2 separate regions of the Homo sapiens genome follow, and region 1 is linked to region 2. The links come from fine-mapping of genetic effects on gene expression. A gene starts in region 2. The other region holds a variant in brackets. All regions are shown on one strand. Distances are between the middles of the regions.

What was found. PIP is the estimated chance that this variant, and not a neighbour inherited with it, causes the effect.
Region 1: its variant is the best candidate, but not a certain one, in a credible set for the expression of DDX6 in monocytes (Quach 2016, PIP 0.59).

The regions. Positions count from the first base shown.
Region 1 is chr11:118,839,114-118,843,504 of GRCh38, forward strand. No RefSeq gene overlaps it. Among named protein-coding and RNA genes, the nearest start is that of CXCR5, 43 kb to the right of the region's middle. RefSeq lists enhancers at 176-285, 2,379-2,428. The variant G/A (reference allele first, on the strand shown) is at 2,008.
Region 2 is chr11:118,789,070-118,793,460 of GRCh38, forward strand. It overlaps DDX6 (DEAD-box helicase 6), which reads right to left and starts at 2,095. Exons shown (of 14, transcript NM_004397.6): 1 at 2,029-2,095. RefSeq lists enhancers at 695-1,252, 711-890, 2,201-2,310, 2,927-3,482, 3,871-3,980 and silencers at 1,091-1,170, 1,801-2,130, 2,581-2,870.

The sequences.
Region 1 (4,391 bases), 50 kb after region 2:
TGAACAGGTCAAAATTATGCAAGCTTTAAAGGGCACAAAGAGGTTGGCTTTTATCCTAGGGGTGCTAGAAAGTCATCAAAGTAGTTTGTGCAGGAATGTAGCCCAAATGATCCAGTTTTGGTTTGGAAAAATTTAAACATAGGCAGTGGCTCATGCCTGTAACCCTAGCACTTCGGGAGGCCAAGGCAGGCAAATCAGTTGAGGTCAGGAGTTTGAAACCAGCTGGCCAACATGGTGAAATCCTGTCTCTAGTAAAAATGAAAAAATTAGCCTGATGTGTCAGCAGGCACCTGTAATCCCAGCTACTCAGGAGGCTGAGGTACGAGAATCACATGAAGCAGGGGGGCAGAGGTTGCAGTGAGGCAAAATCGTGCCACTGCACTCCAGCCTGGGCAACAGAGTGAGACTCCGACTGAAAAAAAACTTTTTTTTAACTTATATGAGAATAGACACGGTTATATTATAGCACCCAAAATACCCATCAATGGCTTCAAATTATCATTTTATGGCCAATTTTTAGGATTTGGGAATAAAATAGAAATTCCCAGGAATTCTCAGAAATTCTTGATATTAAAAACTATTCCGTATTTTCATAACACTTTATTTAATGTTTTAAATGTTAGTATGCAAGATTGTCAAAGAAAAAGACTTTTTTTAATTTTTAAATTTTTTTGAGACATGGTCTCTCTCTGTCACCTAGGCTGGAGTGCAGTGTTGCGATCTCAGCTCACTGCAACCTCTGCCTTGTGGGTTCGAGCGATTCTCCCGCCTCAACCTCCCTCCCAAAGTGCTGGAATTAAAGGCATGAGTCACTGTGCCCAGCCAAAAAAGTTAACATTCTTAAAATAAAAAACATAAACATGCAGGCTGGGCGCGGTGGCTCACGCCTGTAATCCCAGCCCTTTGGGAGGCTGAGGCGGGCGGATCACAAGGTCAAGAGATCGAGACCATCCTGGCTAACCCCGTGAAACCCCGTCTCTACTAAAAATACAAAAAATTAGCCGGGCGTGGTGGCGGGTGCCTGTAGTCCCAGCTACTCGGGAGGCTGAGGCAGGAGAATGGCGTGAACCCAGGAGGCAGAGCTTGCAGTGAGCCGAGATCGCGCCACTGCACTCCAGCCTGGGCGACAGAGCAAGATCCATCTCAAAAATAAATAAATAAATAAATAAATAAATAAATAAATAAATAAAATAAAAATTGCCAATGAGCATTATTGACTAGCATTCAAATAATCTAACATTGAGCTCTCCTAACACTATACAGAATCCCAGATTAAAATTCCCAATTTTTGTATTTACCAAAATTTGTTACTTCTTGGATCACCACTCATTGGATTTATATAAAGCAAACTGTGCATATAAACTCATTACTATTTATTTTACTTGCAGAAATGCCTGTGCTTAGCAGCAGACAGGGCCATGAGCACATACTTCTGACATGGCAGTGAAGGCGAATTGACAGGGATGGGTTCATGCTATGTTTTGGAGTGGGCAACACCATCAGGATATTACAACTCTTTTTTAAAAAAAGTTTTAATTGTTTAAATAAATTTTTAATTTTAATTTTTGTGGGTACATAGTAGGTGTATATATTTATGGGATACATGAGATGTTTTGATATAGGCATGCAATGATTATACAACCCATTTTAATAGTCTCAATGCGCTCCATCATCATTTTGTTGACACAGTAACAGTCTGAGCTAACAGGATGGGTATTAGAAACTAAGAAGGAACCGGGCGCAGTGGCTCACGCCTGTAATCCCAGCACTTTGGGAGGCCGAGGCAGGTGGATCACCTGAGGTCAGGAGTTCAAGACCAGCCTGACCAACATGGAGAAACCCCGTCTCTACTAAAAATACAAAATTAGCTGGGGTGGTGGCGCATGCCTATGATCCCAGTTACTCGGGAGGCTGAGGCAGGAGAATCGCTTGAACCCAGGAGGCGGAGGTTGCGGTGAGCCAAGATCGTGCCATTGCACCCAGCCTGGGCAAAAAGAGCGAAACGCC[G/A]TCTCAAAAAAAAAAAAAGAAAAGAAAAAGAAACTAAGAGGGAAATAAGGCCGGGCGTGGTGTCTCATGCTTGTAATCCCAGCACTTTCAGAGGCCAAGGAGGGTGGATCACTTGAGGCCAGGAATTCAAGACCAGTCTGGCTAACATGGTAAAACCGCATCTCTACCCAAAATACAAAAGTTAGCCAGGCTTGGTGGGACACGCCTGTAATCCTAACTACTCGGGAGGCTGAGGCAGGAGAATCACTTCAAACCAGGAGGTGGAGGTTACAGAGAGCTGAGATTATGCCACTGCATCCCATCCTGAGTGACAGAGACTCTGTCTGAAAAAAAGAAAGAAAGAAAGAAAAGAAACTAAGAGGGAAATGAGATTGGATAGTTGGGGTGGGTGAGGACTCTCAGAAAGGAGGGAGGGCTTCCCAGCAGAAGAGGCGTGTTTTCGTGCGTAAGAAGTGGCTGGGGAAAGCGAAAGCAGTGGGGGCACCCATGATGAGACTGGCTGGCTCTAGAAACATTAGTGGGATTTCACCCACACTTGCTTGGGTAACTTTCTGTTGTCATTGGGAAGCCAGTGGGACTTTCTCGTCCAAGATGAACCAGGGCCCATACACTTGCCACTTTCACTTGTTCCTAGAGGCTGTGTCATGTCTTGGCTGCCTCAGGGTGCAGGGACTATGCTCATATAGTAGGAAGGTAACGGCATACACAAATTAGGTGATTACAGGTCTCACACTTGTCAGTTGGCTCCATTCAATTTCATACTTGGTTCTTTCTCTTCCATGATCTCTATTTTGTTTCTTGAACAGACCAGGACTCTGTAAGCTGAAACGTTTGGTAAATTCCCTTCCTTGCCAGTTTACACTGACTTTGTACCCACAGTTCAAGGCTAAATCCCTTTTTGTCTGGGCTAGTGGTTGCCAAATCCCTTTTTGTCTGGGTTAGCCATTTCATGTAGAGACTGCTTCTCTACCTATACGCTTATTCAAATGCAGTAGTGAAACAAAATCAATGCACAGCCATACAATTACTACATAGCCTGTGTAAAGAATGATGCAGATCTATTTATATACAAATATGGTAAGCTCCATAATATATTATTAGATTTTTAAAAAGTAAGTCTCCAGACAACATTTATAGTAGTGTTTTGCGTGTGTGTGTTTATAATTGCATAGATATAGTTCTGGAAGGATACATGGTAAACTCAACTCTAACAAGTGTGTATATGACAGGAATGAAATAACTCTACTTTTTAGTTTGTTTTAAAAGTATTTTAATTTGCAAGCATCACTTCTATAATGTGAAACAAAAATTAAAAACCTCAAACCGTTGCTCTTCTTGGAGTCACTTGAATTGGTAGCCCTGAAGAAAATTCCTAAATTAGACTTTCTTCTGTTCTTGACTGAACGAGGATGAATGAGTCACCCAATCCTGTGCCAGGTACAGGAATAAATGCTGGACAGTTACAGATGAAAGAGAGCATGTTGCCCTTTAAGGACTTCAAAGTTTACAGAGAGACCAGAAAACAAGAAATTAAAGTACAGTATGATATATGCCACAGAGCTATACCTTGGAAAGAAAAAGGATGGACAGCACAGACTTTAAAGCAGTAACAGGAGGTGGGTAGGAAAGCCTTCCAGAGAAGGTAAGAATCGAGAGGAGTCTTTTATTTTCCCTGTTACTTTATTATTAAAAAATGTCAAACATAACTGAAAGGTTGAAACATCTGCAGATCCACCACCTAGATTCAACGATTGAACATTTTGTTGTATTCACTAGATATGTAATACAAATAAACAAATGCAAAGCCATTTGAAGTTTCACCCCTAAATATTTAAACCCCAACTCCTAAGAATGACATTATCTTACATAACCACAATGCCGTTATCAAACATAAAAATAACATTAAGGGCTGGGCATGGTGGCTCACGCCTGTAATCCCAGCATGGTGACTCAGGCCTATAATCCCAGCACTTTGGGAGGCTGAGGCAGTGGATCACCAGGTCAGGAGTTCGAGACCAGCCTGGCCAACACGGTGAAACTCCATCTCTACTAAAAATACAAAAAATTAGCCAGGTGTGGTGGCAGGCGCCTGTAATCCCAGATACTCGGGAGGCTGAGGCAGGAGAATCGCTTGAACCTGGGAGGTGGAGGTTGCAGTGAGCCAAGACTATGCCACTGCACTCCAGCATGGGAGACACAGCGAGACTCTGTCTCAAAAAAAAAAAAAGGCAAAAATGAACCCCCCCGATTAGCTGGGACAACAGGCATGCCCCAAAACACCCAGCTAATTTTTGTTTTTTAAGTAAAAATGAGGTTTCACCAAATTGGCCAGGCTGGTCTCAAACTTCTGACCTCGTGATCCACCCGCCTCAGCCTCCCAAAGT
Region 2 (4,391 bases):
CACTTTTTTTTTTTTTTTTTTTTTGAGGCGGAGTCTCGCTCTGCCGCCCAGGTTGGAGTGCAGTGGCACAATCTTGGCTCACTGCAACCGCCGCCTCCTGGGTTCAAGCGATTCCCCTGTCTCAGCCTCCCGAGTAGCTGGGATTACAGGCGCCTGCCACCACGCGCAGCTAAATTTTTTCTATTTTTAGTAGAGACGGGGTTTTGCCATGTTGGCCAGGCTAGTATCGAACTCCTGACCTCAGCTGATCCGCCTGTCTTGGCCTCCCAAAGTGCTGGGATTACAGGTGTGAGCCACCGCTCCCAGCAACCCCGTTACATTTCTTATATAAAATACACTAGCTTACGAGTGCTGATTCTTTCTGCCATACACCAAGGCATGTGAAACTCAAAATTTTAAAGTCAACAGATCTCAACATTTATGAAGAAAATGCTCCTTGATTATGCCTTCCTTAAAAAAAAAATGAACAAGTTGCTCACAAGCAAATCCTGATTATCACATACACAAAGCTGTTTACTTCAGACTCTGACCTCTTAAGCAGATATGGTTAACAGCTACTTTCCTGTATTGACGGTTTTATATTATGATCAGCGATATCACGCAGTTCACAGAGACTTAGCTGTTTGCAGAGCACTAAGAGGATGAAAAGGGCAACCTCTAAAGACCGAACGATATCATCATTACTGTCCATCATGCACAGTAAGACCTCCTATATCCTTAAATCCAAAATGAGACTATGTGATAACTGCTCCCTTCTTAAACTGAAACCTGCACTGCAGCTTTTTCTCAGAGAAGGAAATATTCCTCCTACCCCTTCCCAATTTAGATTTGCAAGTTTTCTACATTTTCAAAAACAAAAAACAAAAAAACAAAAAACAAACAACAAGAAACGTAGACTAGTTGGGAGGAGCCCCTAGCGGAGTTAATTACAGCACTTCACAGATCGTAGTTAGCAATTGACAGTTTCACACCCAAAACAGTATCGTCATCGCCAACAAGAGCTTTTGTTTGCAAATGCAGCGCAGTTTTTCTAGCTTTGCCTGCAAGTTGGAGTGACTGGGTTTTATTCTGAAGGGAAATGGGGGCTGAGGAAGAGAAAGGAGAGAGATACGGGAAAGAGTCATTGACTAATGACTGGAACCCCGTAACTGAAAGGAAATTTCTTGTCCCCCCGCACCCCGCCCCACGCCCCAAACACACACACTTCTGACCATAAACACAAAAGGTTGGGGCTCTGCAATCTTATCTGCGCAATATGAGCCAGCAACCGCTCCATTAGTAGCAAACAATAGGGACTCCCCCAAGGAGGCCCCAAATGGACCCCCTAAACCAGAAATCCCCCTCCTTTCCTCCAAGAGTCGGGGGCTCCATAAATACCCTCTTGTTATTGACCCGCAAGGCCTACTGCAATCAAGCAGCGGCCGGTTTGCTTCTAAACCGAGCCCTCCAATACAGCATGTCCCTGCCGCCCCCTATAGGGCCGCCTCGTACCCTATAACCTCCACCATCATCCCCCTAAGTCCTTGCCGCCCCCTTCGGCCTCATATTCCCTCATCTTCGATAAAGCTACTCCGAGTACTTAGCCTGTTCCTCCTGCCGACCCTGCTGCGCACCACATTCCTATATTCGCCTCCTCTCAGGCGCTCCCACCCCACACAGCTGCCGACCGCCTTCCTCCCCAGGCCCGGCCAGGCCTTAGGCCTCCGCCCGAGAGTCCCCCAGAGCCGGCCCGGGGGGCTCCCCACAGCCCCCAAAGCACCGCTGACCTCGACCCCACCACCTCACCCCAAGCCTCGCGACTCGGGCCCGTGTCCTACCAACGAGGCCACTCCCGCTCGGCACCCTCGGTCCTTTATTGTTGACTCGAAGCTCCCAAAATGGCGGACGCTCCTTCCTCCTCGGAAACCTCCGCCCGCCCCCACCCAGCCCTCTCGCTACGGCCTCCTCTCGCCCCCGCCCCCGCCCCGCTCCGAGGGGCGCGCAGGCCAGCCGCCCGAGCCGCCGGCTCCCCCGGCTGTCCAGCCCTACCTCCTCCGCTGCCCGCTCTCGTGGCGCCGCCGAAGTCGCCGCCTGGCTGAGCTAACTCGGCTCCTCTGCCCCCTCCCTCGCTCGCCCGTTCGCCCGCCCGCCGCCTCCTCCCTCTTTCCCTGCCTCTCCGCATGGCGGCGACCGCGGCTCCTCCTCCACTCAAGATGGCGAAACCTCGGCCGCCGCGGCTATATTCGCCGCGGCGTCACTGCCTTCCTGGCCTGGTGGTGAGAGGAAGTCGGGCCGCGAAAGCTTCCTGAGGAGAAAATGGAGGGCCCTTCTCTCACACCGACGAGAAAAGTTCGAGGGGGAAATACGAGTTCCTTTCTGAAGGGACAGGACGGCTGCTTTTCCACAGCCGCGACGTGATTGAGAAATGGTGGCTGGCAAGGGTAGGCCTGCCTTCGCCCCTCCAAAGTAAAAATCGGGAGTTGAGACCAGAGGAACATCTCTTTATTACATGACTAAGGATATGTTTTGAAAACTGGCCCCCGGGCAGCTGCTCGGGGACAGGAAGCTGACCTGACTTCTCCAGCTGGCCGGGGAGGCTGATGCCGGGCCTAAGGGGCCGCGTCCGAGCCTCTCGGGGCGCGCCTCCATGCAGGAAGGCGCGGAACTAGCGACCCGGAGACGCCGGGCGCGCGTCTGAGTGTGGGGGCAGGAAGGGGGGCCGACCGGGCCCGGAGGCCGCACCAGGCAGGAGGGAGGACTCCAGAGAGTGCGCGGGGGGCGCTGCGCGGTGGGACGGGGCGAGCCTGTAGGGCGCGCCTGGCGGCGGGTAGGCTCCGGGCTTGAGGGTGCGCCTGGGGGCGCTGGTTGTGGGGGAAGGCACCGGGCTTGAGGGTGCACCTGGGCGGGGGAAGTCTTCGGGCATGAGGGCGCGCCTGCGGGTGGTATGGGGGGGTACACCGAGCTTGAGGGTGCGCCCGGGGGGCTCTCATGTGAAGGGTACCAGGCTTGAGGGCGCCCCTGCGGGGGGCGCAGAGGCACCGAGCTTGAGGGTGCGCCTCGGGGGTCTGCGGGGGGAAGGCACCGGACTTGAGCGTGCGCCGGGAGAGGACGGCGGGGGACCGGACTGTGAGGGCGTATCTTGGGGGACCTGTCTAGGAGGAACCGGGAGGTGAAGGCACAACTGGGGGTGAGGCGGGGGCAGGGGCCGGGCTGTGAGAGTGCGACTGAGGGGGGATTACTCCGGAGAGCACGGAGCTGGGGGCGTTGCGCAGGTGGAGTGGGGAGGCCTGGTGGAGAGGGTAGCAAACCGAGAGAGCGCACCGGGGTGGTGGGGGGAGAAGCTGGACTGTAAGGTGAAGAGTTAGTAGGGCGCAACCGTCTTCTCCTGCCCTCGAAGGGCAAGACTGAAGAAAGTAGGGGCGGAGGAGGCCGGGCCCTCCACTAAAGGGAGGGAAGCTAGTGAAGCGTCAGTTATAATAGAAATAGGAATTCAGTAAGGAAATGGAGAAGCTTAAGGCAAAGGGTGACTCTCCGGCCTGACCCTCACTATGAAGATATTTATGTATGTTCCCATAATACTTTTCAGATCCCAATGTCTGTGTTTATCCTTGACAGAAATAATAGAACTGCTGTCTTCTTCCAAGTTAAACAAAACTTTGGAGCTAAAAGCTAGCTAGGTCAAGAGAAACAAAATCTAATCCTCACCCAATTGAGAGACTGAATATACAAAGAATGGCCAAACCTAACCATGACCTCCTACCCATAACCTCTTCAGTAATCGGCCAGAAGGGTCAGGACTTAATCTTTAACCGGCAGCTTCCCTATTTCTTGCCCCTGCTTCCAGCTCTGGGCCAATCAGAGAAAGCCAAATGTGCTCCTCACACCAATCGCGTAAGAAGCCCTGCTTCTAGTATAGCCCTCCTCCAACTTCCCGATGCCAACATCCTCCAATCAGAGCCAACCTGAAGTTTCTCCCTTTTTTCAGTATATGTAAAGCTTTTCCACTCCCCTGCCTGCCTATGAGTCTGTTAAATCAAGTGATGGGTCGCGGCTGACTCTTGCCAGCTCTGAGTAAATAGCCTATTCTCATTTGGTGGTCGTTATTTCTACACAGCCGGTGGGAAGGTGGTGGAGAATAGTGAAGACTATTCTTAAGGTTAAAAAGAAGGTTCGGCTTACATTTTTTTTTTATTTTAAATTTACAGCATGGCGTCTCCAGCCCAGGTTTTAAAATACCTTCTAATGTAAGGAAATAGCCCTGCACCTTGTGCCCATCCTAGAGAGAAAATGGTTTCTTAATAAAAAATGTATGAGGCCTTTTTTGCCCCAATATCTTCCCAAGCAGAGGAATGTGAAGGGGGGTTGGGCCAAGAAGTGAGTGGTAGGAAGAGAGGCCTACGGATTTAAAACAG